Linked DNA regions of Homo sapiens. The protein of the gene in region 2 interacts with the protein of the main gene of each other region in a pairwise test. Each region holds a gene or a part of one and is shown on either strand. Other genes may lie near its edges. The genes, in order: TNFAIP8L1, ANKRD36B, MAB21L3 and GLIS2.

Region 1 (8,331 bases), on a different chromosome or scaffold from region 2:
GGGTTTCACCATGTTGGTCAGGCTGGTCTCCAACTCCTGACCTCAGGTGATCCACTTGCCTCAGCCTCCCAAAGTGCTGGGATTACATGAGCCACCCTGCCTGGCCTAACGCAACCCACTTCTTATCTCCCCCACAGCCTCCATCCTGGTCCCCTCGTCCCTCAGCACCATCTATCCCCATGCCCCCCGTCTGTCCTCCCTGTAGCAGCCAATGGGTGCCTGTGAGTACCTGAGTCAGGTTCCATCCTTCCCCTGCCCACCACCCTCCATGGCTCCCACCTCCCTTGGGGTCAAAGCCAAGTATTCCTGGCAGCCCATAAGATCCTGCGCACCCTGCCCTGTCCCCTCCCTGCCCTCCCCTCCTCCCTCTCTCCTCCTCCTCACTGCTCCAGCCCCACGGGCCTCCTTGCTGCTCCTCTACCATGCCAGGCGCCATCTTGCCCCAGGGCCTTTACACAACCTGTGCCCTCTGCCTGAGCTGCTCTTCTCCCAGGTCTCCACATGGCTGTTTCCTTCTTGTCATCCAGGTCTGGGTTTACATGGCCCCTCCTCAGGAAGCCCTCCCAGATCCCCCATCTATTTTATTTATTTTATGTGTATATTTTTAATTTTTTTTTTTTTTTTGAGATGGAGTCTCACACTCTGTCAACCCAGGCTGGAGAGCAGTGGTGCAATCTCGGCTCACTGCAACCTCTGCCTCTTGGGTTTAAGTGTTTCTCCTGCCTCAGCCTCCTGAGTAGCTGGATTACAGGCACCCACCACCACGCCCGCCTCATTTTTGTATTTTTAGTAGAGACAGGGTTTTGCCCTCTTGGCCAGGCTGGTCTCGAATTCCTGACCTCAGGTGATCCGGCCACCTCAGCCTCCCAAAGTGCTGGGATTACAGGCGTGAGCCACGGCGCCCAGCCAATTCTCTTCTTTTTCTTTGAGACAGGGTTTCACTCCTGTCGCCCAGGCTGAAGTGCAGTGGCATGAGCTCGGCTCACTGCAGCCTCAACCTCCCTGGGCTCAGGTGATCCTCCCACCTCAGCCTCCAGAGTGGCTGGGACTACAGGCCTGCGACACCACACCTGGCTAATTTTTTTTTCTTTGTTTTAAGTAGAGACAGGGTTTCACCATGTTGCCCAGGCTGGGAAATTCTCTAGATGGACCTGCAAGTTTTTGGTTATAAGGAAACTGAGTCACAGAGGGTCAGGAGCTTGCCTGTTTATAAAGCAGTGATGTGGCAGAATCAGAATTTGAACCCAGCCTTTAACCTAGTGCAATCCTTTCCTCATCCTAGTCAATGGCACATTTGGGGTTCAAGTCTCGTCTCTCCCAGAGCCCACCCCAGAGGGGAAGGATCGAAGCCTTAGGAAGCTTCTAGAAGTACTGTGTCCTGTAATCCCCTCCTCGGGCTTTTAACAATATCTTGTTGAATCTCCCCCACCCCTCAAAGCACCCTCCCTCCCCACAGTTATCTCAGCCCCACAAGAAAAAGGAGATGACCAGCCCCATTGGACAGATGGGGAAACTGAGGCCTAGAAGCTGGGGATTTACAAGATCCCAAGAACTCTGCCAGAGGTCCCTGCGTCAAAGCTCGAGCGGGTGTGATTCCAGGGAGGTCATCTGCTGAGGGGTGTCGGGAGATGCTGGGAAGGGGCAGGCATGCTGTGGAACTGGGCCGTTCCTGCCTCTCGCTCTGCCTCCTTGCCCTGCTCCCCGTCTGTAACACCTGAGCTGTACCTGGGCAAGTGTGAGTCATTTTTTAGCGTTGACGTCTCTCTGGGAGGAGTGTTCCCCTGTCAACGGCTGGAGTTTTGTCCTCAAGGCACCCTTTCGTGGCCCCATTGGACAGACAGGGACACTGAGGCCTCCGGAACCCACCATACTGAATTGTCAAGCAATCAAAAGACCCCTCACCCACCTGGGCTGACCCCTGGGGGAACGGGGATGAGGAAACTGAGGCTCTGGGGGCACCTGACCGTCGGTCCAAGGCCACACAGTGGGAGGGGCCGTACCGCGGGGCCTCAGACCTGCACCCGTCTGCAGAGCCACCCCACCATTGGAGCAGGGTTCAAGTCCCCCCCCCGGCCCCATATTCCCTGCAGGGGTCCAGGCACTCACCCACCACCTGTATCCCAGGCTGCTCCAGCCTCTGGCCAGTGCCCGATTCACCCAGGTGTTTGTGTGGCTGGAGACAGCCCTTTGTTCACGGTTTCCATAGGTACAGCGTCCCTGAGCGGCCCCTCCTCTGCCCCTCCCAGCCCTTGCCTGTGCAGGTCCTGGGTCCGGCCCATCCAGGGAGCTTGTTATGTTTCAAAGTTGGCGCCCTCGGACCTGCCGTAGTGGCAGAGGGCACAGCCCATGCAAAGGCCCTGAGAGAGGACCTCGCCTGGGGTGTTGGAGAAACAGGAGGAGGCCAGTGTGACTGGGGCAGAGCCACAGCGAGAGTCAGGCAGGTTATGAGCAGGGCCTGTATTCCTGCATCTGATCCCCCAGCAGCCCTCAACTTGGGGAGTTACGACCCACTCCTGTTTTACAGATGAGGAAACTGAGGCTCCGCAGAATTGAAAAACTGGTTCAAGATATCATGCGGGTGGCAGAGCTCAAACCTAGATTGGTCCAAGCTCCGCCACCACTGGGCTGGCCCCCCTGGGGCCTCCCAAGGCGTTCATCGCCTCCAGCTGAGCTGGGACTGGCTCAGGAAATAAACTCTGGCGGCCTGTTTACACCTGGGGCTGCTCCTCCACCAGCCCTTCCCCCCTCCATAGAGAAGGTGCTGGGAAATGTGAGGATGCAGAGAAAACAGATTCTGTCCTGCCTCTGTCCCCACTTCCCTGGACAAACATTGGAAGCATTGGCCTCTTTCTAGGCCTTAGTTTCCCATCCCAGGAAATGGGCCTAGTTCGACTTCACAGAAAAGGCCAGGAGGCGGCAGGTGTCCTTCAGATCACCTGCCAATTACCTTAGCAGCGACGGTCCCAGTTCACAGCTGGCAAAACTGAGGCCAAGTCCCCACAGGCCACTTGGGAGCTCATTAGGGGCCAGTCTGGGTGGGCCCGGGCTGGCCTAGGCCTGGCTCCCCGCCACCGATGCCTGGACCGATGCCTGGTTTAGCTAGAAGCTACAGTCATGCCCACCTCCGCACGGCTGGCCCAGCTGCCCACCGCCTGGAATGCCCTCAGGGTTCTGGAATCTGGCCTGAGCACCTGCGGCCCTACAGTTAAAGGGGGCAGAGTCCACTAGAGTCCACATGGGGGATGGGGGTGCTGGTCCCAGAGCAGAGCCCCACGCCAAGGGGGGCAATTGAGACTCAATCTGTCTCCCCCTAACCTATACAGCGAGAGTGACAGAGAGACAGACGGAAACTGAGGCAGGAATGTAGACGGACAGGCGGTGGGGTGCAGAAGCATTAAGGGGCGGGAGAGACAGAGGGCGGCCAGGTGGCCCCCGAGATGCGCTGAAATGGGGGGCGCCCCGGCACTGCTCGCTCACCTACTCTCGAAGCAGAGTCCGTACGTCCAACCGTCGGGGGTCCGTCCAGCCGCCTCCGTGGGCCGGGGCCGTTGCCGCGGCGGTGGGAGCAGCGCCGGAGCCGGGGCCGGGGCCGGGGCGGGGCGGGCAGCGCGGCCCCGCCCTCCACTCGCCTCGCCCCTCGGCAGGCCACGCCCTCCACTCGCCCCGCCCGCGCGGAAGGGACCGGAGAGTTGCCAGGCCTGGGGGGCGGGCCGAGCGCTCCGGATTAGCCAATGACAGGGCGGGCAATGTACGAAAAGGCCAATGGGAGCAGGGCACTGCGACGGGGGGGAAGTGGGGGGAAGGGGCGGAGCCTGGGGGCGGGGTCAGGCGGCTCTGGGGGATTCCTCCGGAATCGCGAAGGGGCCCGGATGCGGGGGCGAGGCCGTCGTGGGGGTGCCGGCCACAGAAAAGGGAAGAGATAAGAGTACGAGACAGACAGAGAACCTGGGGAGGGAGGCACAGAGACACCAACAGGAAGAGACCAGAGAGCCAAAAGGCAAAACAGACCAACCACGTGGTTCTGCACGGGCCCCTTCCTCCTTCTGGGGCTAGTTTACCCGCCTGGGTAATAGGAATTTCGGCAGAAGCGTGTTTCTCAAAGTACGGCCTCGGGGAACCCTTCGCGTCAGAAAGATCTGAGAGTCCATTTTAAAATGCAGATTCCAACTAGGTGTGGTGCCTCACGCCTGGAATCCCAGCACTTTGGGAGGCCAAGGCAGGAGGATCCCTTGAGCCCAGGAGTTTGAAACCAGCCTGGGCAACCTAGGGAGACCCTGTCTCTACAAAAAAAAAAAAAAAAAGAAAGAAAGAAAAAGAAGAAGATCAAAATAAGTTAAAATTTTAAAAATACAGAGTTCTGTGCCACAAGAAGGGATGAATCTAACCCAGGGTTGTGGGGCTATAGATGAATCTTTGGGGTGAGGTGGAGGGCTCCTGGAGACCTCATCAGAGGATCCCCAGGTCCAGCCTCGATTTCCGTAGGAATGAGCCTGCAGGACACACAGGAGCCTCCCGGCTGCGCAGCGCCAGCTGGGGTCCCCCGGGGAGGATGCAGCTGTGAGTCCTGGGAACCAGGCCCTGGAGCTGCTCCCAGGTCCCCTGCAGCACCATTTCCGCCCTGCAGCCCAACTCTGGGTCCCGGTTGCAGCTAGGGCCTAGGGAGCCCATAGCAACCTCGCTGCTTCTTCCTCCAGGAAGCCAGACAACAAATTGTTGAGGGCCTGTTGTGTGTCCTGACCTGCACACGGGATTCAGGAAGACCGAGGCACAGGCCTCAGGAGGCAAAAGTAAGTTAAATATCTCATTGGCTGGGCCCGGTGGCTCACCCCTGTAATCCCAGCACTTTGGGAGGCCGAGGTGGGCGGATCACCTGAGGTCAGGAGTTTGAGACCAGCCTGGACAACATCGTGGAACCCCGTCTCTACTAAAAATACAAAAATTAGCCGGGTGTGGTGGCACATGCCTGTAATCCCAGCTACTCAGGAGGCTGAGGCAGGGGAATCGCTTGAACTCTGGAGGCAGAGGTTGCAGTGAGCCAAGATCGGGCCACTGCACTCCAGCCGGGGCGACAGAGCAAAATTCCATCTCAAAAAATAAAACATACAAAAAAAAAAAATTAGCTGGTCGTGGTGGTGCACGCCTGTAGTCCCAGCTACTCGGGAGGCTGAGGTGCTAGAATTGCTTGAACCCCAGAGGCAGAGATTGCAGTGAGCCGAGATCGCGGCACTGCACTCCAGCCTGGGCTACAAAGCAAGAGTCCATCTCAAAAAATAAAAAATAAAGCAAAAATATGAAAAAATTAGCCAGGAGTGGTGGTGCACGCCTGTAGTCCCAGCTACTTGGGAGACTAAGGCACGAGAATCACTTGAACCCAGGAGGCAGAGGTTGCAGTGAGCCGAGATCGCGCCACTGCACTCCAGCCTGGACGACAGAGCGAGACTCTGTTTCAAGAAACAAAACAAAACACCTTCTTATTTCATTTTGGAGGAGGAGACTGAGGCCCAGAGAGAGGAAGTAACTTGCCTGAGGTCACACAGGCACAAGGTGGTAGAGTCAGGAGTGACTGTCCCATTTCACAGATGACGAAATGGAACCCCAGAGGGAGGAAGGGATAGGTTCCAGGCCACACAGCCAGATGAGGCAGAGATGGGATTAGGACCTGATTAGGTCTGACTTTGGTGTGGTGTGTACAGCTCCTCTCGCAACCCCAGCATCAAGGGGGTCTCCCCATCAGGGCAGGAGGACTGGAGGCATCTGAGCCTAGCATGATTTCACCTTTTTTCTTTCTTTCTTTTTTTTTAGACAGGGTCTCGATTTGTCACCCAGGCTGGAATGCAGTGGTGCAGTCACAGCTTACTGCAGTCTCAACTTCCTGGGTTCAAGCAATCCTTCTGCCTCAGCCTCCCAAGTAGCTGAAATCACAGGTGTGCACCACCAAGCTCGGCTAATTTTTATTTTTTTAAATAGAGATAGGGGGTGTCTCACTATGTTGCCCAGGCTGGTCTCGAACTCCTAGCCTCAAGCGATCCTCCTGCTTCTGCCTCCCAAAGCGCTGGGATTACAGGCAAGAACCACCACACCTGGTCTCTTTTCTGTATCAGATAAGAAGGTTGGGACTCGGGAGGGCTAGGGTTCAGTGGGTGTTAGGGGTGGGGGAGGGATGATCTTGGCCGGGAATGCAGGCTTACTGGGTGATGGGGCTTAGTGAGAATAGGGCCTCTGCTGGGATTGGGCTCTGTCTACAGTAAGGGTGCAGCCCAGGGTTAGGGTTCAGCCTAGAGTTGGAGACTCTATCGAGGGTCCAGGCTCAGCCCAGAGTCGGGATTTAGAAGGGGTCGCAGGCTCTATTCCGTATCAGACCTCAGCCTAGAGGGGGGCTCAGCCCTGAGTTGGGAGCTCAGGTCGATGGAGACTCTATTGGAGTTTGAGGCTTGGCTCAGGACCAGGGCTCAAAGACAGATCAGAGGCTCTATCCAAAGTTGGGGTCTCAGCCCAGGTCCCAGCTCTACTGGGATTGAGGTTTAGCCCAAGGCGGGAGCTCAGCCCAGTGTCGCGGTTCCTTAGGAGGTCGGGGATCGATCCAGAGTTGGGGGCTCTATAACCCGGTAAAGCTCAGCCGGGTGGGAGTCGGGTCCGGAGTCCCGAGGGTCCGGGAGTCGCCGCCGCGCCGTTTCCGATCATGCCCGGCAGAGGGCGCGCTCTGCCCACAGCCCGGGCTGGCGGCGCCTTCGCTTCCCCGGAACCCGCGGCCGGGGCGGGCGGGATCTGCGTGCGGGGCGGGGTCTCCAGGCCCAAGTCTCCCCGCGGAGCCTAGACCCACCAGAGTCACCCGCACCCCCAGGCCAGGCCTCGCACCCTGCCGGGCTGTGCAACCTGCAGCTAGCGACCCTCTTCTCCGGGCCTCTGCCCCGGCCCAGTGCCATGGGATCCCGTTTGGGGGAGCTATGGAACCTTGAATGTGGGGTCGATGGGACTCCGTTTGCGGGGATGATGAGACCCTGGTTGGGATGGGGGATGGGATTCCGTTTATGGGGTGATGGGATCCTGGTTGCGGGGGGACGATGATATCCCAGTTGAGGGGCTTGAAGGAGGCGGCTTATTCTGTTCTGCAGGAGCCTGTGGGACTCGTCTTGGGGGCCAGAACGCACTCCCCTCCCCCTTACCCCTCTCCCAGTGGTAACTCCTACACGTCCGCCATCTGTCCCCAGGCCATCTGTCTGTCTCTGCAAGACCCTTTCCAAGGCCGCTTGAGAAAGGGAGTGGGTGGGCGGGCCCAGAGCAGGGACAGAAGGAGGGGAGCGAATCTTGCTGGAGCGCTCACCTCTCAAAGTCCAGGCCCGGGGGCCTCCTGGAACTTTCCCAAGGTCACTGGAAGAGAGGGAGGGGCTGTCACCCTCCCTGGGGTCGGGGGCTGGGCATGGGGTCAGGGGCGCACTCCTTTCCCCCCAACCACTAAACCAACTCCCTCTATCTTCCTGCTGCCAGAGAAGGAGCCAGCCTGCCCCCGAAGGAGGGTGGATTTACAAGTGTCAGCCGTGCAGACGCCAGCCTGTGTCAGCCGGGTGTCTGGGGAGGTAGACGGTGCGTGTGTGCCCGTGTGTGCCCCTGTGGGTGGGTGGGTGGGTGTGTTTGGGGAGAGGGCAGCCCGATCTTCTGCTGCCCCTGGGGATAGAGCGTCCTTAGTCATCCCGGGCAGGAAAGGAAACTTCACTTTTTGGAACCTCAGTGACTGCATCTGGAAGATGGATGCAGTGATCGTAGCAGATTCAGAGATTTGTAAAACTGCAAGGACAGGGTGCTGGGACTCAGCACTCTTGCATTGTCTGATGGCCTCAATAAGACACCGGCAGCCGGGCGCGGTGGCTCACGCCTGTAATCCCAGGACTTTGGGAGGCCAAGGCGGGCAAATCACTTGAGGTCAGTTCGAGACCAGCCTGGCCAACATGGTGAAACCCCACCTCTACAGAAAATACAAAAATTAGCCAGGCGTGGTGGTGAGGGCCTGTGGTTTCAGCTACTTAGGAGGCTAAGGCAGGAGAATCATCTGAACCTGGGAGGTTGAACCTGGGAGGTTGCAGTGAGCCGAGATTGTGCCACAGGACTCCAGTCTGGGTGACAAAGCAAGACTCTGTCTGAAAAAAAAAAAAAAGAAAAAGAAAAGGAAAAAGAAAGAAAACAGCTGAGAATCGCCGCACCCAGAGATCAGAAAAGCTAGGGTATTTATCCCCTCATGTTCAACCAGCGTTGACAAAGGACTACTCCCAGGAACCTTAGCTCTGGGCAGAGAGAACGCCCCAAAACAGGGAGATATGTCTGTGGTTCTGAGCAGCT
Region 2 (4,748 bases):
AGTTGTGATGTGCTGGGGGATCCCTTCCACCCCCAGTCATTTGGGACTCTCCAAAGCTGGCCCCATCCTCTCCCCCAGGCCCCAGTTGGAAGGACTCCCACTGGGCAGGAACTCCAGAACTCCCTCCCAGGGAGAATTCAAATTCCTCTCAGCCCCAGACACCAGTGGGGTAGCTGGAGGCCCTGGTTGGGAGGAACAGATTGGGAATCCCCTTAAAGATTCTGTCTGGGGCCGGCCACGGTGGCTCATGCCTGTAATCCCCATACTTCGGGAGGCCCAGCAGGGTGGATCACTTGAGGTCAGGAGTTCCAGACCAGCCTGGCCAACATGGTGAAACCCCATCTCTACTAAAAATAAAAAAATTCGCTGTGCGTGGTGATGGGCACCTGTAGTCCTAGCTACTTGGGAGGCTGAGGCAGAAGAACTGCTTGAACCAGGGCTGTGATGGGTGCTGTAAGCCGAGATCATGCCACTGCACTCCAGCCTGGGTGACAGAGCAAGACTCCTTCTCAAAAAAAAAAAAAAAAAAAAAAAAAAAAAAAAGGATCTGGGCACATGTTGGGAGAGCAGCTGTGCTATTCTAGGGATCCCTTCTACCCCACCAGTTTGCACTGTCCAAAGCCCACAGGCTGGAATGGCTGTGTCACCCAAACAGCAAAGATGGCGGCCAGCTCCTCCCCTGGGAAACTCATCCCAGGGAGCTCCAGCATCCTTGGCACAAGCTGGCAAGTATTGGCTGAAATGACAGGTGCCCTGGAGAAATTTGAAAGGGTTATCCACATCCGGCTGCTGATTATTTTCACAATTTTCCTGAGATGTCGTTATCATTCTTTGACTCTCCTTTCTATAGTCAGACATTTGGCTCTCAGAGGTGACTTTCTGGCTGAAGAATGTGGATTCGTCACTGTCTTGTGCTCAATGTAGAGGGGGCTCTTAATTCCAGAAATGTCCATATCTGATGAAAGAAAGCGAAGAATGAAACAAAAAGAGATATGTACCGTATTCATAAGTAGATTCAATGCTCTTAATTCCAGAAATGTCCATATCTGATGAAAGAAAGCGAAGAATGAAACAAAAAGAGATATGTACCGTATTCATAAGTAGATTCAATGCTATTAAGATGTCAGTTCTTTCCAATGTATAGATTCAATGCAATTCTACTCTAAATGAAAATGTTTATATGGAGAGGCAAAAGACCTTGAATAGCTAACACCATATTGAAGGAGAAGAACAAACTTGGAGGACAGACACTACTCAATTTCAAGACTTACCCTAAAGCTACAGTAATGGAGACAGTGTGGTATTAGTGAAAGAACAAACGGATAAAATGAGATAGAGAGTTCACAAATAGAAACACATTAATACATTCGATTAATTTTTGACAAAAAAGTAAAGGCATTATGATGATGAAACAGTTTTTTCAGGAAGGGCTGCTGGAATACCTGGATATCCACATGCAAAAAAAAAATAAATTGCAGACCTTACACCCCCACCAAAATTAACTCAAAATGGATCAGCAACATAAATATACAAAAAACTATAAAATTTATAGAAGATAATATAGAAGGAAATACAGATTATCTTGGGTTTAATGATGACCTTTAGAAAAAACACCAAAGTTGAAGTCAATAGAAGAAAGAATTGACAAGCTGGACTTGATGAAAATGTAACATTTTTACACCATTAAAGACACTGAAAGAAAAGAGAAACCACAGATGGAAAAAAATTTGCCAAAACGTATCTGATTAAGAACTATTATTCAAAACATATTAGTATTCTTAAAGCTGAGCAGTAAAAGACATGAGCTAAAGACCTTAACAAGTACCTCACCAAGTAAATTATACAAATGGAAAATAAGCATATGTAATGAGGCTACACATAATATTTCCTCAGAGAAATGCAACCATGAGATGCCACTGCACACGTATTAGAATAACCAAAATCTAGAACCACTGACAACATCAAACGCTGGCAAGGATGTGGAGCAAGAGGAAACTTCATTCATTGCTTGTGGGAATGCAAAATGGTGCAGTCACTTCTTGAAAGTTGTATTCTATGTACCTCAACAGCATGGCCTTCACTGTTCATATTCCTATTATCATTTTGGTCGACCACTTAACCAAGGTCTAATTAAGTTCCACAAGTTTCCTCATCTTCCTGTCTTCTTTGCCTATTACCCAGTTCCAAAGCAAATTCTGCATTATCAGGTGTTTTTATAGCAAAACCCCACTCCTTGGTACTAATTTCTGTGTTAGCAACACAGAATAACACAGAAAAGAGCAACACGGAAAAACACAAATTTTTGTGTTGCTATAAAAAAATAGCTGAGACTAGGTAATAAGGTATAAGGAACAGGTATAAGACTAGGTATAAGGAACAGAGGTTTGTTTGGCTCACAGTTTTGCAGGCTGTAGAAGAAGAATGGCAGTGGCATCTGCACAGCTTCTGGTCAGGGACCCAGAAGGCTTTTACTTGTGGCTAAAGGTGAAGAGACAACGGGTATGACACACATGGCTAGAGAGGTAGGAAGAGAGGGGAGAGGTGCCACACTGTTTTAAACAACCACCTTTCGTGTAATGCAGTGAGAACTCACTCATTAGTGAAAAAAGGGCAAAAAGCTATCCAGGAGAGATCAACCACCATGACCCAAACACCTCCCACTAGGTCCCACCTCCAACATTGGGGATCAAATCTCGACACAATATTTGGAGGGTACAAATTTGCAAACAATATCACTCTCTTTTTGTCTTTAACTTTGGACAATTTGATTATAGTGTATCTTGTTGTGAGTCCCTGGATTCACCTTATTTGGTTTCCTTTGGGCTTTCTGGATCAGGCTTTCTGTTTTCTTCCCCATGCTTGATAAATTCTCTGTCATTATTCCTTTAAACACTTTTCCGTTCCTTTCTTCCTCACTTCTCCTTCAGGCATGCCAATAATGTGTGAGTGGTCCTGCTTGATGGTGTCCCATAACTCTCTAAAGTTGTCTTCACTCCGTTTGCATTATCTTTTTTTCTGATCCTCAGGTTAGATAATTTCCAGTGACCAGTCTCAAAGTTCACTGATAGATTCTATTAATGGACACCTCTATTAAATTTTTTCAGTTCAGTTACAGTACACTTTAGATCTATGATTTGTTTGACATTATTGTATAACGTTTTTCCTTTTCTTGAAGTTCTCAACTTGTTCTTGCAAAGCTATCTTGACCTCAGTGATTATTGTTATGACCATTATTTGGAAATCTCTGTCAGATAAATTACATATCTGCACTTCACTCAGGTGCTGGAGATTTATCTTGTTTTCTTGCTTTGAATATATTTCCCTGTTTCTTCATTTTTCCTCGACTCTCTCTGTTGGTTCCCGTGCATTTGATAAGACTGGCCTCATGTAGGAAAAGGATCTCACCAAACTTTCCAGCCAGAGATCTTCAGGTACCTCTCAAGTCCTTGTGTGCTCTAGTATTGACTGTTTTTGGTGGCTCCCTGGAACTTAGGATGTGCCACGCCTTGTCAGTAACCAGAAATTGGTTAAGGTAGGAGCCAGACAATCCAGATGTAGCTAGAAAGTTAGAAGGCTGGAGGAGTGTTTCAGTTCTTTCTAGCTACATGATGAAGATTAGTATGGACATTTATCTCCCACTCTCTCTCCATTAAGCTTGGTAGAGGATCTGTGACAAACACCTATGCACACTCTGGATGCAGCCTCTGATCCTGAGGAGATAGCTTCTGAATGTGGGCCCATTGTATGCTTACTTCTTTGTTTTCTATGGTCTAAATACATTCAAAAATACAAAATCCTGTCGACTCACAGAGCAGAGTTCTTAAGAAAACAGTTCCTTGGGCACTAACCACGGAGGTTGTAGAATTTCAATGCATAATCAAGCTCCTTCTGGGAGCTTGATTCAATGCATAATCAAGCTCCTTCCGGGAAGAATGGGTAGGCTTGGATTTATTACTGGGTTGAACCCGACATAAGACTGGTAGTGTCAAACTATGGTTCCATCTGCCAGATGAATTATACTTTGTAAGCCACATTAGCCCCCATGATGCCAGTATTTAAATACAAAGCTAGAAATGATTAATAGGGTGAGAAAAGCATGTTGAAAGCTCAGATAGGCTGAAAGCTAGGCAACTTACATCAAACAGTAAACTAAGCTGTGAATGCAAAAAAAAAAAAGTTCTTAAAGGAAATTAAACAGACTACTCCAGTGAATGCACAAATGATAAGTACAATGGTATTATTGCTGATGTGAAGACAGTTTTAGTGGTCTGGATAGAAAATCAAATGAGCCACAACATTTCGCTAAGCCAAAGCTGAATCCAGAGCTAAGCCTTAGTAACATTCTTTAATTCTATGAAGTCTGACACAGGTGAGGAGGCTGCAGAAGACAAGTTTAAAGCTAGCAGAGGTTGGTTCATGAGGTTTAAGAAAAGAATCTTCATAACATAAAAGTGCAAGGTAAAGCAGCCAGTGCTGATAGAGAAGCTGCAGCAAGTTATCCAGAAGATCTAGCTAAGATCATTGATGAGGGCAGTTATGCTAAATAACAGATTTTCAATGTAGACAAAACAGCATTATACTGGAAGAAGAGGATACCTAAAACTTTCACAGCTATAGAGGAGAAGTCAATGCCTGGCTTCTAATCTTCAGAGGACAGGCTGACTCTTTATGTACTGGCTAATGCAGCTGGTTACATTAAAACATTAAAGGCAGTACTCATTTACCATTCTGCTACATTTTTAAGTTCT
Region 3 (8,033 bases), on a different chromosome or scaffold from region 2:
ATGCTGGATTACATTTATTGATTTGCGTATATTGAACCAGCCTTGCATCCCAGGGATGAAGCCCACTTGATCATGGTGGATAAGCTTTTTGATGTGCTGCTGGATTCGGTTTGCCAGAATTTTACTGAGGATTTTTGCATCAATGTTCAACAAGGATATTGGTCTAAAATTCTCTTTTTTAGTTGTGTCTCTGCCCGGCTTTGGTATCAGGATGATGCTGGCCTCATAAAATGAGTTAGGGAGGATTCCCTCTTTTTCAATTGATTGGAATAGTTTCAGAAGGAATGGTACTAGTTCCTCCTTGTACCTCTGGTAGAATTCGGCTGTGAATCCATCTGGTCCTGGACTCTTTTTGGTTGGTAAGCTATTGATTATTGCCACAATTTCAGATCCTGTTATTGGTCTATTCAGAGATTCAACTTCTTCCTGGTTTAGTCTTGGGAGAGTGTATGTGTTGAGGAATTTATCCATTTCTTCTAGATTTTCTAGTTTATTTGCGTAGAGGAGTTTGTAGTATTCTCTGATGGTAGTTTGTATTTCTGTGGGATCGGTGGTGATATCCCCTTTATCATTTTTTATTGCATCTATTTGATTCTTCTCTCTTTTTTTCTTTATTAGTCTTGCTAGCAGTCTATCAATTTTGTTGATCCTTTCAAAAAACCAGCTCCTGGATCTATTAATTTTTTGAAGGGTTTTTTGTGTCTCTATTTCCTTCAGTTCTGCTCTGATTTTAGTTATTTCTTGCCTTCTGCTAGCTTTTGAATGTGTTTGCTCTTGCTTTTCTAGTTCTTTTAATTGTGATGTTAGGGTGTCAATTTTGGATCTTTCCTGCCGTTTACAGTACTTTTGAAAAGTAATCATTTTCATTTTCAAATGTGAATTTTCATGAAAACAAAATCAGTAGTTCATGCTTTAGAAATTTATCTTTGGTATAGACATTTGGGCAAAAACATTCAAAAGTAATAAAGGAGCCCCTTGAGTTGAGAAGCATTACATAAACGCCAGAAAAAAACCATTGATCTCACCGAGAACTCCTAGAATTCCTGATCGGTTGTGCCACACAGAATATGTTGCCTTGTGGGCCTCTGTGAAATTCCAAATGGGTGGCTCAAGAGCACTCAGTGCCCAGCTCCTGTGTGAGTCCCCAGACCTTCTTCATGCAGTTACCAGAACAATTGTTTAAAATGCAGTCAGATCGTGATACTCTTCTGCTTCTGGAGAGGCCAAATGTCACACCTTTGATCTTAGAATAAAATACTGATTCCTTCCTGGCTTTACAAGGCCAGGTGCTCTGACTCATGCCAGCCCCACCATGCCTGCCTTTGGTCACTTTTCCTTCCCCTTCAGCTATTTGCATTTTCATCCTTCGGGGACCTTTCTGTGGACTCTACTTCAACATTCTGTTTATTTCCTTTGAAGCACTTGCTTCCATCTGTAATAACTGTGCGTGTTTATCTGTCGTTCATTTCTTGTCTCCACCATTAGGTGGCATCCCCAGGGGGAGGTCCTCATCCACTTTGCTCTTTGCTGTGTTCCCGGTGCCTAATGAGCATTATTTGTCAATGAGTGAGTGAGTGAATGAAGTGAGCAAAGGAACACACTGAGCAGTGACAGACACCTAAGGTCACTCCATGCAGATCATAGTACTAGGTTATTTACATAAATATATAAGGAAGTTCCATCCATGGCCCATGGCATGGGAAGCAAAGAGAGGGCTATGGTTGGGATCAGGCCAAGAGTTGTACTTTCATCTTTGACTTACACTTATCATCAAAACCATTCCCCTCCCTGCTTAGAGAATACCAGCGAAGCAGACAGAACATCAGGAGCCACTGACCCACATGCTAAGGAAGCTGGAGGGCAGCAAGGAAGCACAGGCTCACTAACTCATCAGGTGCAATTTTGCGTCAGTGCTGTGGGTACCGATCCAGGATGCAAACACCAGCTACTCAACCAACCAGGAACACTTTGTGTTGATCCAATGCCTTCCCCTTGAAAAGGCGCCAGCACAGTTTCATAGGCACACAGCCCTGCTCAGAGGTAGGCACGTTAACATTCCCATTTTACAAATGGCAGGAGAATGTGCCCATGATCAGTGGGCTGGGCACAGTATTGGCCAGCAGGCTCATGTCCAGACTTCCAGGGGTTCTGTCTCCATCTTCACTGTGAGACGATCACAGCCTGAACAAGGGAAACTAAGTTCAGAACTGTCACCAGTTCCAAATCTGTGCCTGGGGAAGCCTGATGAGAGCTGTCTCCAGGAGAATTAGCTAGGGCAGAAATGCTTGCTGGGCTCCAGGGAGGCCTGGGCCAGACATCCTGGGGCACAGTTTTCCCCCTGCTGAAGTGTTTCTGGTTTGATGTAATTTCCGCTGCCATTCGTGGCCTTTCTCCTAGGCAGGATCCTGGCACCTGACTGAGGAACCATCCAAAGAACAATGTTAAGCCAGAATAAAATGTCCAAGAGCCTCCCAGGCCGGGGCAACCATCAGGGCGGGCCGATCTGGGGGTTCTTCAGGAAGGTGGCCAGCTTTTGGGCCACAGTGTCCAGTTCAGTCGGGTTGGTGCACTGAAAGAGGTTGCTGTTCCGGACGAAATAGTGTTTCAGGAAGTGCTGGCTCACGCACTTGTGCAGTTTCCTCACCAGGCGCAGAAATGCTTTGCTGAAGACCTGCCAGTCTTTAAAGTGGGGATATTTCTCGCAGGTCCAAAAGAGCACAGTCTGTGGAAGGGAGAAGTGCTGTCAGACATTGTTTCGGGCAATTGAGGAGGATAGCTTGGAAACAATTATTGAGCTTATGTGGCCTTGGAAGGAGGGAGAAAAGAGTTGCCTGGGCAGACTGGATCTACCATGAATTCACAATCCCCAACTTCAGGTGGGCCTTCAGTTTACCAGCTGGTCTCCCGCACCTCTTCCCTAATCTATTCCCTCACTCTCCTCCAACATTTCCAATGTTCACTAATCCAGGCAATGTCTTTGCCTCCTACTTTACGGGGAAAATGGAACCCCTCATCCTCCCAAACCAGACAGATCTTGCCTACTGCGGCACCCACCTCTCTTCCTCCCTGCTTCTGCCTCTTCTGCCTGTGGGGCTGATCCCTCCACAGGGCCCTGGATCCCATCTTCCAGGAACTGTATATGACTGATTACCCTCTTCCTCAACTGCTTTTCACAAGTTGAGAGCTCTCCTGCAACCCCAACCCCACATCTGCCTCCTGCCCTCACTCTTCCCTCTGCAAATCCAGGCTTCTCTGGAGAGTCGGCTCTATTATTTGTGGTCATTTCCTCTCCTCCCATTTCTTGCCTCAGTCTGCTCCAATATGGATTCTTCTCTCATTAATCCTCAAAGGCTCCTCTCGTCAAGGCCCAGTGATCTCCACTTTTCTAAATCTAATAGGCCTTTGTCAGCCTGCACCTTACCTGACCTTTCAGCAGACCTGGTTCTCTCGCCCACACCCTCCCTCCTGAGCCATCCTTCACTTGACTTCCAAGCAATCTGCTCTCTGGGTTTTTTCTCCTAGCATTACAGCGCCTCCCTGGCAGGCTTTTACTCCTTGGCCTGCCTTTGAGAAGTGGAGTTTCTGGAGGCTCAATTCTAGGCCCTCTTCTCCTCTCAGTCTACATTCATTCCTCAGCTCTATGTTGCCTCCACCACAGCAGCTCTAATTCTCACTACATATGAATGACTTGCAAATTTGTGTCTCCAGCCCAGACTTCTCCTCTGACCTGCTTATCGTGTATCTCTTGAGTATCTGAAAGTTATCTCAGTCCCAACATGCCCAAACTGAACCCCTGCTCTTCCTGCACAAACCTGATCTGCCTCCAGAGTTGCTTAACTAGCTAGTTGTGCAACACGAAAACCTAGGAGTCGCCCTTCTCCCTTACCGTCCCCAGTCAAGTCCTGTAATCCTCTTGTCTAAGTATTTCTCGAGTCTACCCATTTACCTTCACCTCCAGTATTATTCTACCATCCCCCTCCACACTGCCTCCACATCTCACTGGACCTCTGCAGTAGCGATCTCATCAGCCCATCCCTGTTCTTGCCACCATCCAAATTATCACCATCCATACTGCTGCCAATATACATCTACTTCCCTTCTCATCTAAAATACTTCAAGGTCCCATCCTGGCTAACACGGTGAAACCCCATCTCTACTAAAAATACAAAAAATTAGCCAGGCGTGGTGGCGGGTGCCTGTAGTCCCAGCTACTTGGGAGGCTAAGGCAGGAGAATGGCGTGAACCCAGAAGGTGGAGCTTGCAGTGAGCCAAGATCATGCCGCTGCACTCCAGCCTGGGCAACAAAGCGAGACTCCGTCTCAAAAACAAAAAAAAAATTAATAAAATAAAATACTTCAAGGTCTTCCCATTGTTTGTTAGCTAAAAACATCATCCTTAATGTGGTGTGGTTTATAAGGTTTGGTCCCTGCCTTCCTTTCCAGACTCATCTTGACCTGTGTCCTCCCTTGCTCTCTTCATGTAGCCACACCAGCCATTTCATGCTCCCTTCTACCACAGAGCCTTTGCACATCCTGCTTCGGCTGCATAGGGCACACTTCTTTCCCTTCTTTGTCCATCAGATCAAATTTCCCTAGTACACCCATTGCACACTCTCTTAGTCATGTACTTCTCATAAGAAGCAGCGACAACAGTAGTAGTTTTTATATTTATGTGATTAATTTTATCATTTCCCCTACTGGATTATAAACTTTATGAGAGCAGTGAATGATGCCTATTTTTATTCACTATTAAGCTACCCAGTACCCAGCAAAGGCTAGCCCATGAGAGGAAGTTAATAAACATTTATTGAATAAGTGAATTAATGAATTATCCATTAATGTTATGGTTTAGATATTGGGTTATTTTTATACAGTCTTTATTTTTTAGAGCAGTTGTAAGTTCATAGCAACTATGTATTTAGATTACGTTATTATGAATAAATGAGTTAGAGATAATTTCATGCAAGCGAAGATAACCTAGATACCAGAAAAAATGTTAATTCCTCTTGTTAATTAAGCTTTTATCTCCCTAAGCAAACTGGGGCAGTTAAGCTCATTATAAGCAAGCCAATGTATTTTGAGTGGGTTTTAGGAATAAATAAGGCAATAAAAGATAAGCTTTTGCTTCACATGAAATAGTCTTGGGGCAGAGCCTTTTTGGGGAGAAGGTGAGGGCCTTGTAAGAGAGTGTCAGACTTAAGGTGAGGCAAGGCTGAGTGCCACAGCTTCCTAATGCTGTTTTGCAACCCAACCTCTTCCACTTTCCTCAAAATGAAGATTTGGCAAGGATCCAGCACACTCAAGTCATCATCTGGGATGGTGTCTAGCACCACATTTATCACCAGCCACATTCATTTCAAGGGCAGGGATGCCTAAATGGGAGATAATTCTGTCTGTGGACTAAGGATGGAAGACCAGAGAAAAAGGCAGTTAGCACTTTCTGTTTATCTTACTCCAGAAATAGCCCACTTAAAAAAAATGCCCATCCTTGAGGATGCCCTATTGTGCCACACAGGTGGGTCAGGGAGGATTGAAACAGAGAATCCTTAAGGAGTTGCCTTAAAATCCACCAGGTGACTTAGGAGCCATCAGAATAGAAGTCAGCCCTTGTGGGGAGTACAGATTTGCAAGCAGCCATGGCTGGGAGATCCATGGTGGCCCCATTCAATCCTGCCTGAAATATTCATGTCACCGAATGGTATTTCCATCCATCTTAATTGAGAGGTAATGAAGTCAATCGTTAAGGTTATGAGGTTTTGATATGAGATAGACTTGAGTTTGCGTCTCAGCTCTGCCTCTTCTAGTGTGGCCTGTATAAAGGAAAGCAAGAGAAGCTAAATCCACAGAAAGAATCAAAGTATCTTCTGCAAGCACATGCCCTCCATCCAGGAGAACAGCCTGCGTGTTTTTAGGGAAGTGTGCTTGGGACACGTTGAGAATGTTGGAACTCCAGAGAAAAGCCCCAGTGCATGTGAATGAGATGTTAACAGATTCTTCCGCAGGTCAAAATGGACAGGTTATTGGAAAGATAAGAAGGTGAAGCAAGGTTAGTGATTTTGTGCGAAAAAAAGAGAAAAGTTGAGTAAGATGTGAAGCCACTCATTCATTTGCTCAACAAATATTTAATGCGCTACTATGTACAAAGCATTGGGAGAGATAATGGGGGTTTTGTTCACCTTCTCCCAATGAATAAGAACATCGAGTTAGGTCAGCATGCCAGCTGGACAAGATCAATGTGGTATCTGTCCTTCAATAAGTTACTTTAGAGCAGACAGAGTAACATGGGGCTGGAAGACAGTTTTGTCCATCGAATGAGAGAAGGAAGAGGTATGTGAGGAAGGCACCTCACAGATAGGTGACTGCCCCAGGGACTTGTGCTTACCTGAGTAGAAAGGGAGTCCATCCTTTCTGGGGCCAGGGAGGAGGGCTGAAGCTAGGCTTCACAGCCCACACTAGCTAGGCTGGGCTGGGGTGTCCTGCAAGAGTCTCCTACCTCCCTACTCCAGCAGGCTGCACAGAGCTGCTACATGAGAGTACACTTCACTCTGTGTGGTTCACAATTTGAGAAAGAGGGAGTCGGGAGGGTGGTCAAAGGCCCCCTCTCCAGGGAGGCCCCCTGACTGCCCAGTCCAGGTCAGGCTCTGCTGCTCTGAGCCTTCACAGAGCCATACTCCTCCCTTTCCAGTGCTTCCTCACTGTGTGATTGTACACGCACCCACTGGCTTGCCTGACCCATGTCTATCTCCCATGCTAGACCAGAAGTGCCATGAGTGAGGAAACACATCTGTGTCTGTTCACCTTTGTGCCTGCAGAGGTTGAGCCCACAGCAGGTACTGGGGCAGGCCTCTGGCCCAGAGTAATCTCAATAAACACTTGCTGAATGAGTGAGTGAAGGCATGAATGAATGTGTACTGTTGGGTTTAGGGCAAGGAGAGGCAGGGGCTGGCAGAGCAAGGGAAGATCCTTGCCTGGTGATTTGGACCCTGGAAAGAAGTGTGTGGCACTACGTGTGTGGTAACCTCTGTGTTGCATTTCCTGGTCCCCTCTGTGTTAGTGGGTCTGTGTGCATGAGGAGGTGTGCGTAGGCTGCAGTGGGTTTAAAGACTGGCGCAAACATAAAGCCATCAAAGTGTGAGGCACAAACCACATTTTGTGATTCATTTCTGAACCTCAGCAGGGTTTCTGGCACCTAGTGAGCACTCAGGTTGGTTTGGTGGGTAAAATAAAAGTGAGAGGGGAGGAAAAGTGGGATAGAAGAGAATTGGAAAAGGGAAGGGAGGGAGGAAATTTTACCCTGGGCAGGGGTGTTGTGGACTCCCATATGGTGCTAGTTTACATATTTCCATAATACGTAGTAATTTGTTGGATGGCAAATATAGATACTAGAACCTCATCCTGAATTTTTCACACATGCTACCCCTTCTGAGTGGCTCTGGCCAGGCCCTACAGAGGCCACAGGAAGAATGACCTATCCAAAGCTGCCCCTGGGTCTTCTCCAACCTGCCCCACACTCACCTGCAGATGGTGGGACGTGATAACCGGCCTGTTCCCTGGGCACCAGATGTCCTCCTTCAGGTGCCTCATGACCTGAAAACACTTCCTACGGCAGCCCCCATCTTCATCCAGCTGTTCCAGTAACACCTGCTCAGCACGGAGGAAGCTCAGCTGCCAGTGATAATTTGAACAGGCCAACAAGTTAAATCCAAACGACTGGAAGAAAGAGAAAAATATTGGGAAATAAGAAGAACAATGCTCACTGGTGTAGAAAGCCATTTCTGAAGCAGTCTGCTGGTCTGGGGAACTTGTCACCAGGCAGACAGCACATCCTACGTGGGGATGAGAAGGGGGTGCCAGGGAGACCACAAGCCACCTTGGATGTGGACAGTTAGAAGATGGTGCCCACTTCCTCTCCTACAGCAGTTCTCCAACTTGAGCATACATCAGAATCACATCACCCAGAGGGCTTCTTAAAACACAGATTGCTGGGCCCTGTTCACAGGGTCTCATTCAGCAGGTCCAGAGTGGGGGCTCGGG
Region 4 (8,033 bases), on a different chromosome or scaffold from region 2:
GCTCCTGCTTCCACAGCACCCGTGCCAGGGTGAGGCTCCCTCCCATAGCGCCCCTGCCCCTCCCACGGGGTGGCGGTCTCCTGGCCCCAGAGCTCTTGTCGGCAGCCACCCTGTCCCTGGGGCAGGTTTGAACCTAGCACCTCAGTAATCTGGGCACAGTACCCCAGAATGTGGCTGGGGGGAGAAGGGCCTTTGCCCACCACTCTCCAAAGCCGCAGCGGGCAGTAGTGGGCTGAGGACTTGGACCTTGGGATGCTCCGCCTGGAATCTTCTGTCTCAGTTCCTGTCACCTGTGCGCCCTCAGCACCTACCTCCTTCCCAACCTTCCAGTTCCTGCTCTAAGCGGCAGATTGAGAGGGAGGGGCACCTGCAGGGTCGGGGAGAAAGCCCGGATCAGGCCTGCAGGGGCTCAGGGCAGTGGTGGCCTCATGTCAGGGCCGGGTTCCTGGCACATCCACGACATACAAGCCATCTTTGCAACTCACTTTTATTGTTTCTTTATAAACTTCCTCTCCCATGGAGGAATATATTGTTATAGTCATTAGCTTATCTCTTTTTTTAAAACTCTATGCTAACAGCAATGGAGCCAAGAGGAGGAAAACATAAGCTACGATAGAAAGGCACTTAGAACCTGTTAAAATACTGACGTCCTGGAATGTGCAACAACACACCAATGACAACCACAAAAAGTACACCGGCCCTGCCGAGCCTGGTCCGTCACCGAGTCGCATGCTGAGCTCGTCGGCCTTCCAGTGCCCTGTTCCTCCGCTCTGCTCAAGTCGCAAACCCATGACCCCGCCAGGGACTTAAGGCCTGGGGCCCTCACAGGGGTGGGGGGTGCTCAGGGCCTGGGTGGGGCCCGAAGAAAGGAGACCAGCTCCCTCCTACCTTGCTCATAGCCCCTTCGAGGGGCAGAGCCAGTGTGGCTGGGCCCTGTCAGGGCTGGAGTCCAAAGCCCAGTGGCAAGGTGGGCCGGGTCAGGGTGACCCCTCTGGGACAGAAGGGCAGTCCGGGAGAGGGTGGGGTCAGCAGAGCTGCCAGAGGACCTGCAGGGCCACTAAGGACCCCAAGGCTGTCCGGGCAGCTGCCTCGTTTTACAGATGGGGAGGTGGAAGGGCCTGGCCACTCAGAGGCCTGGTGACAGGGCAGGCCTAGAAGCCAGAACTCCCAGCTGCCAGGTGGGAGAGGGAGCAGGGAGAGGCCCCAGATGGGGGGTGCATGGCTGCGTCCATCCCTCAGGGCGTCCTGGGATGGGACTGGGGCACAAGGCCCTCCAGCACCACCCTTAAGTGGTTCTGGCCCCTGCCAGGGTCCCTCTGAGTGGCACAGAACCTGGGGGGGCCCACTGGGTGTTAGGGGTGGGGAAGTGCCTCTGAGAAAGCGGCCCAGCAGGGAAAAGCCAGAGGAAGCAACGTGTCATGGGTCCAGCACCCTCCTCCAGCCACTGCTTCCCTCAAGGCCTTCAGTCCACAGCCTCCAGAAAGCTCCCAACACAGCACTGACTGGGAGCCCCCTCCCCTGCATGCTGTCACTTGGAGCCCCCAGACCAGGAGCTGTGTCCCAGCCTGTGGTCGGTCGTCCCCAGCCAGCCTCCCCCTTCCTGTTACAGGACCAAGGACCCAAAGGCCTCTGCAGGGGGCGCTGCCCAGGCCAGGCCCAGCGGGGGTAGAAGGAGGAAGACGGGGCGCTGGGCCTGGCCCCACATGCTCCCTGAGCCAGGGCCCAGGTCACTCAGTATCTTGGCACCACAGCTGGCCTGGCACCTCCCCTTGCCAGCTCAGGGGCCCTCGGACCTGCTTCCCACGCTCCCAGGGTGCCCCAAAAGGTAGAGGGAGGAGACCCTGGGGTGCAGGGGTGGAGTGGCCAGCTATCCCGTCTGGTACTGCAGGCCTGGCCTGGGGTGAGGACGGCGGCTGCAGAGCGGGCCTCCTCCTAACTAGTGGGAGGCGCCTTGTCCTGGGGGGCATGCTTCTACCTGGGGCTTTGCAGGGGCCTGCATCTGTCTTGCTTTCCCTCTGGAGGCAGGGTCAGAGGGAAAGGGGTCCAAGGAGCCCCCAGGGCAGGGGCTGGGTAAGCCTAGGAGGGAAGGGCAGGCCTCTGGTCCCTGGGGGCTCCTCTCAGGAAGGGGGAGCCTGGTGCTAGCAGGGAGGGCAGATGCCACCCCACCCACCCCCTCTGCTGGGAGAGGGCAACTTGCCATGGGTGGTCACTAGGTGAGGGAGGTGCCAGGGTGGGAGAGGGAAACGGGAGGAGGTCGGGCAGGGGAAAGCCTCTCAGAAGCTGAGGGCCAGGTGGTGGGGGACAGACAGGAGCGAGGCTTCAGCACCCAGGAGCACAGCTCTCCCTGCATGACAGGCCAGGTCCCCACCCGGGGGCTGGGAGGCCAGCCATGAATGACCTAGCACCATCCTTGCTCCCGGCGGGCTGGGCTGGGGCTGCCCGGGCAGTAGGACATTATTGCTATTTCACAGAAGAGTTTCCGTTCGTCGGGGGCAGTGCCGGGAGCTGCCGGGGGGGCACCACAACTGTCCGCAGGATGGGCTCAGTTCACCACAGCCGGTTTGAGCAGCACCGAGCCCGGCGGGATGACCACCCAGCCAGGGGCCAACGCCTCTGGGCTGCTGGCAGCTGAGTTGACGCCCGTGGACAGGTCCAGCACGGTGCCTGGCAGCAGGGGGAGTCCATCGGGGCTTGGCCGGGAGCAGCTGCTCTCCGTCCTTTCAAGGGGCGTCTTGTGGCCCTCCATGCCCAGGGCCCTGGTGGGCACCGACCCACGCCCCTTCTCCCCCTCGGCCTTGCCACCAGCTGCGCCAGCAAGGAGGGAGACCACAGGCAAGCCCAGTCCGCCAGCCCCAAAGGGCGAGGGCAGCAGCGGGTTCTTGGCCAGATTGAGAGGCAGGACGGGGCCTGGCAGCCCAGGGCCCATGCCCCCCCCACCCCCACTGCCCCCACCGTTGCCACAGGCCAGGGCACTGAGGTCAAGGGGGCCGGGGGCCAGGGGTAGGGGTAAGCCGGGCAGGCCAGGGCCTCCAAAGAGGGCAGCTGGGTTGGGGATGATGATCTGGGCCCCACTGACATAGGGGCCGCCGTCGGGGGCGGGCAGTGGCGGCTTGGGGGGTGGGCGCAGCTGCAGGAGCTCTTGCTGCTCGTGGGACACAAAGTGGCCATGGGCCTTGATGTGCTTGCGCAGTGAGCTGGGGTCCGTGTAGCGCTTGTGGCAGCCGGGCATCTTGCAGTAGTAGGGCTTGTCCACATAGTGGGTGCGCGTGTGCTTAAAGCGGTCACTGGAGTTGGAATAGCGCTTGTTGCAGCCCTCGTAGGGGCAGACGTAGGGCTTCTCACCTGCAGGGTGGTGCAGTGCAGTGCCGCCATGAGGGGTCTCTCCCCTTCCTGGGTCTCACCCCATGCACTCAACATTTCCCCGGGCCAAGCACTCCCTGGGAACATAGATGCCCCAATTCTGGGGGCAGGGGGCATCCCCAGCACATGGCATGAGATCTGCCCCCAGGCAGGGCACAGAGGCTGAAAACTCAGCCTGGTTGACTCCAGCTCTGCCTAGCCTCGCCCTGCACCCTCTGCTACAGAGGATGTGCCTTTCAGCAGCAGAACATGGCCTTGGAGGCCGGGCCCGGTGGCTCACGCCTGTAATTTCAGCACTTTGGGAGGCCAAGGCAGGCAGATCACTTGAGGCCAGGAGTTCCAGACCAGCAGGGCCAACATGGTGAGACCCCGTCTCTACTAAAACTACGAAAACTAGCTGGGTGTGGTGGCAGGTGCCTGTAATCCCAGCTACCTCAGAGGCTGAGGCAGGAGAATCACTTGAACCTGGGAGGCAGAGGTTGCAGTGGGCCAAGATCATGCCACTGCACTCCAGCCTGGGTGACAGAGTGAGTCTGTCTCAAGAAAAAAAAGACACCATGGCCTTGGAGATCACATCCTGGCACGAGGCGCCCAGCGTGGGCCTGGCCACAGGGAGTGCTGCCTGGGCGCTACTGCCCTCACTCAACAAATGGCTGAAGGTTCACCAGGCATCTTCTGCTGCCCTGGCCAGAGCAGGGGGCCACATGTAGTGACTGACCTCCTGATACATGGCTCTCCACCTGGAGATGTGCTGCCAGGGTGAAATAAACACCAGGAAAAAACATACACATCAGCTCCTTGAGGCTTTGTCATGAAATGAAGAACTTCAATATCTCACTGATTTGTCTTTAATAATGAATTGATAACACGTTGGATGTACCGGGGTCAACGAACCATATTACAATTAATTTCACCCATTTATTTTTGCTGTGTTTTATGCAGCGATTAGGAAATGTAAAATTATGTCTGTGGCTCTGACAACCAGAGCTGTCCTGGTATGGGCCTGGGCTGTAGTGAGGAGTGAAGCCGACCTGGCCTCTGCGATCACAGAGGTGGCATTAGTCAGAAGATACCCACGGGAACCAGGAAATGGCATTGGTGCTCCAAGAGCAGGTGCTGGGTGGGGGTCTGACCCCCAGGGGATGCTTCCCCTAGCAAACTGCATTGGAAAAGGGACCCCTGGGCGATGACATCAACCCTTATCTCTGAGGCCCGGGATTTACTTAACAGTCCCCTCCCCCTGGGGACCTGCCCAGCCGGTCTCAGCTGAGCGCCCCCTTCATGGGCCAAGCCGCCCGGCCCCGGCCTCTTACCTGTGTGCGACCGGTTGTGGATCTTCAGGTTCTCCAGGCGGGAGAAGCTCTTGCTGCAGGTCGGACAGCGGTGTGGCTTCTCGTTGGTGTGTGTGCGGATGTGGATGAGCATCTTGTACCTGCTCCAGGGAGGGCGGGGGGCACGGCTCAGCTCACTGGAGACCCCAGTCCTCCCTCTACCCCTCTCTCCCCCACCTCACCTGGCGTTGAAACCTCGGCCATGGCGGGCGCAGCCCTCCCAGTGGCAGCAGTACCCCGCATCCTTCTCGGGCTTGACATGGTAATCGTTGACATGGTCCACCAGGTCTTGCAGGAGCTCAAAGAGCTGGTTACACTGCGGAGGATGGGAAGTGTTCTGAGCCCATGCGGGGTGACCTGCCCCAGACTCCACACTACTCTTGCTGGCCCCCACTCACCTTGGCCCAGCGACACACCAGCTGCTTGGGCAGGGGCAGGTCTGGCGAGAGGCACTTGTCCTTGGGAGGGGTAAGGAAGGAGGAGGCAGGCAGGTGCAGGGCCCCCCCGGAGCCGAGGGGCAGGAAGAACTGGAAGGAGCTGGGGACACCATCCAAATAGCGCAGTGGCTGGAAGTCCTGGGGTGCGAGGGGAGGGCTAGTCAAGGTCCTGCTGGCCCAGAGCCCCCCGTCCCATCGGTAGTGGACTGAATGGTGTCCCCAAACAGAGACATTCAGGTCCTCTTCTCCCCAGCCCCTACCTGTGCATGTGGCCTTATTTGGAACTAGGATCTTTGCAGATGTAATCAAGTTAACATGAGGTCACACTAGATTAGGGTGGGCCCAACACCCAGTGACTGGTGTGTTTTAAATTTTTATTTTCTTAATTAAAAAAAATATATAGCCAGGTGCGGTGGCTCACGCCTGTAATCTCAGCACTTTGGGAGGCTGAGGTGGGCGGATCACTTGACGTCAGGAGTTCAAGATCAGCCTGGCCAATATGGTGAAACCCCATGTCTGCTAAAAATACAAAAATTAGCCAGGCGTGATGGCACATGCCTGTAATCTCAGCTATTTGGGAGGCTGAGGCAGGAGAATTGCTTGAACCTGGGAGGCAGAGGTTGCAGTGAGCCGAGATCATGCCACTGCACTCCAGCCTGGGTGACAGAGCTAGACCCTGTTTAAAAAAAAAAAAAAAAAAGGCCGGGCACAGTGGCTCACGCCTGTAATCCCAGCACTTTGGGAGGCCGAGATGGGCGGATCAGTTGAGGTCAGGAGTTCAAGACCAGCCTGACCAACATGGAGAAACCCTGTCTCTACTAAAAATACAAAAGTAGCCAGGTGTGATGGTGTGTACCTGTAGTCCCAGCTTGGGAGGCTGAGGCAGGAGAATCGCTTGAACCCGGGAGGCGGAGGTTGCAGTGAGCTGAGATCCGGGCCACTGGCCTCCAGCCTGGGCAATGAAGCAAGACTCTGTCTCAAAAAAATAAATAGAGATGGGGTCTTGCTATGTTGCCCAGGCTAGTTTTGAACTCCTGGGCTCAAGCGATCTTCCCACTTTAGCCTCCTAAAGTGCTGGGGTTACAGGTGTGAGCCACCGTGCCCGGCCATGACTGGTGTCTTTATAAGAGAAACCAGAGAGAGATTCGGACACAGAGGGACAAAGACCGTGTGAAGACAGGGCAGAGCCTGGAGTGAAGCAGCTACCAGGCTAGAGTGCCAGGCATTTCCAGAAGCTGCCAGAAGGCAGGAGAGAGGCAGGGAAGGTTCTCCCCTAGAGCCTTCCAGGTAGACTCCAGCCTCCAGAATTATGAGGGGTAACACATCTGTTTTTTAAACCACTCAGTGTTGGGGTACTTTGTCATGGCAACCCCAGGAAACCAGTCCACCCCTCTCTCCGGAACTCTCACCCCTCCTTACCGAGGCACTGGGCACTGGAGGCAGGTCCCCGTTGCCCTGGCGCTCGGGGGACAGCGAGCTGCTGCCATTGGGGGAGTCCAGCCCAGATGGTGGTGACAGGCTGAGGTCCACGAGAGGGGCTGCTGAAAAGCGTCCCTCCACCTTCTCGGGGAACTTGGAGTTCAGCAGGAAGCCTGAGGGAGAGGCACAGTTCAGGGTGTGCTGGAGTGTAGAGTCCCAGTGGGCCAGGTACTCCTGCCTCCGAACCCCCACTGTGACCTTGGGAGCAGACACCAGCCATGCCCCCAGACCACACGAATGTGAGGAGCAGCCTGTGGAGCTGACAGGTGTGTGACACCACCCACCACCTCTGAGCTTTACCAGCCGCCAGAGCTTGGCCCCCGTGAGCCGGGGAGGGGGGAAGTGCCCGCTTTGCAGACGGGAATGGTCTGGCACGCAGGGTTAATAACAGAACAGGACTCGAACCCAGGGCCCCTGGGTCCCTGTCAGACGGGCAGGTAGGAACCTTTCTAGCTTTTCCCAGGCCCCTTCCTGCCTCAGTGTTCCCTTCTGTAAAGTGGCAGGTTCGGGCTGGGCTGCTCCCATAGCCTTCCCCTTCAGACAAGCGGTGAATCTGGTTTTCGGGTGACTCTGCTCTTGGAGGCAGGGCAGAAGTGGTGCCCACCACCCTGGGCCCAAGCACCGGGAATCCCTGAGAGGCACCTCCTGGGCTCAGACCCAGCCTCTACTGCCCAGGTTGGCCAGCGGCACCACCCCACAGCCTAGGGTGCAGGTCCTGGGACTACTGCCGCTCCTTCTGAATGCCTGGTTGCCCGACCAGCTCTGTTCCAGATCTGCCTAGAGGCCTCAGTTTGCATCGTGTGCCAGCCACGTGAGCTGGGCACTGCAGCTCCCACCTCCCTGCAGACATACGATGCTGGGCGGATGGAAGGACAAGCGTGCGGGCTTCCCATGAACCGGAAGCCGAGAGGGGCTGCAGCTACATGCTGGTGGACACACTTGGCCATTCTCCCTGTCACCATGACTGGATCAGGGCTAAGTCCCCCTGCCCTGCCCAGGGCCAGTACCTGAGGGCGGGGAGCCTGGAGAGCCAGGTGTGGGGCTGTCATCCACCAGGCCCAGCTCCCTGTGCAGAGCACGGGGCCGGACCACACCCAGCGTCCTCTCCCGCTTCTCTCTTGCCGCCCGGAGCTTGGTGATACTCAGCTTCAGGTCGAGCGGCTCGTCCAGGGAGTGCATGGTGAGGGGGCCGGAGTTGGAGGTGGCAGCAGGCAGTGGGCTCCCAGCTGGTCTTCACGCAGGAACCTGGGGAAGGACAGGAGCTGTGCTGTGGCACTGAGACCCCAGGCTTCTCCTCGGGCTGTACTCATGACAGTCTAACAGGAGCAGGAGCAGGGGGCAGTGTGAGGTTGTCTCCTGGGTAGGGAGACCCTCCGAGCGACCTGGCCGGCAGCTATCATGGGGGGAGAGCCAACAGCCTCCTCAG

Evidence for each region.
Region 1: the proteins of ANKRD36B (region 2) and TNFAIP8L1 interact in binary tests that used the Homo sapiens proteins (3 or more experiments, as listed by UniProt).
Region 3: the proteins of ANKRD36B (region 2) and MAB21L3 interact in binary tests that used the Homo sapiens proteins (3 or more experiments, as listed by UniProt).
Region 4: the proteins of ANKRD36B (region 2) and GLIS2 interact in binary tests that used the Homo sapiens proteins (3 or more experiments, as listed by UniProt).

Annotation. Positions count from the first base shown.
Region 1 is NC_000019.10:4,634,776-4,643,106, reverse strand, and holds the start of TNFAIP8L1 (tumor necrosis factor alpha-induced protein 8-like protein 1), read right to left. Parts: upstream 3,592-8,331; 5' UTR 3,478-3,591; intron 3,091-3,477; exon of another isoform or gene 2,948-3,090; intron 2,156-2,947; exon of another isoform or gene 2,107-2,155; intron 1-2,106. UniProt on the Homo sapiens protein: Acts as a negative regulator of mTOR activity.
Region 2 is NC_000002.12:97,491,901-97,496,648, forward strand, and holds the end of ANKRD36B (ankyrin repeat domain-containing protein 36B), read right to left. Parts: intron 1,047-4,748; exon of another isoform or gene 956-1,046; 3' UTR 763-955; downstream 1-762.
Region 3 is NC_000001.11:116,127,821-116,135,853, reverse strand, and holds part of MAB21L3 (protein mab-21-like 3), read right to left. Parts: intron 7,710-8,033; coding exon 7,515-7,709; intron 2,723-7,514; coding exon 2,489-2,722; 3' UTR 1-2,488.
Region 4 is NC_000016.10:4,332,034-4,340,066, reverse strand, and holds the end of GLIS2 (zinc finger protein GLIS2), read right to left. Parts: intron 7,853-8,033; 5' UTR 7,787-7,852; coding exon 7,615-7,786; intron 6,721-7,614; coding exon 6,548-6,720; intron 5,267-6,547; coding exon 5,090-5,266; intron 5,008-5,089; coding exon 4,874-5,007; intron 4,793-4,873; coding exon 4,674-4,792; intron 3,343-4,673; coding exon 2,543-3,342; 3' UTR 472-2,542; downstream 1-471. UniProt on the Homo sapiens protein: Can act either as a transcriptional repressor or as a transcriptional activator, depending on the cell context. Acts as a repressor of the Hedgehog signaling pathway. Represses the Hedgehog-dependent expression of Wnt4.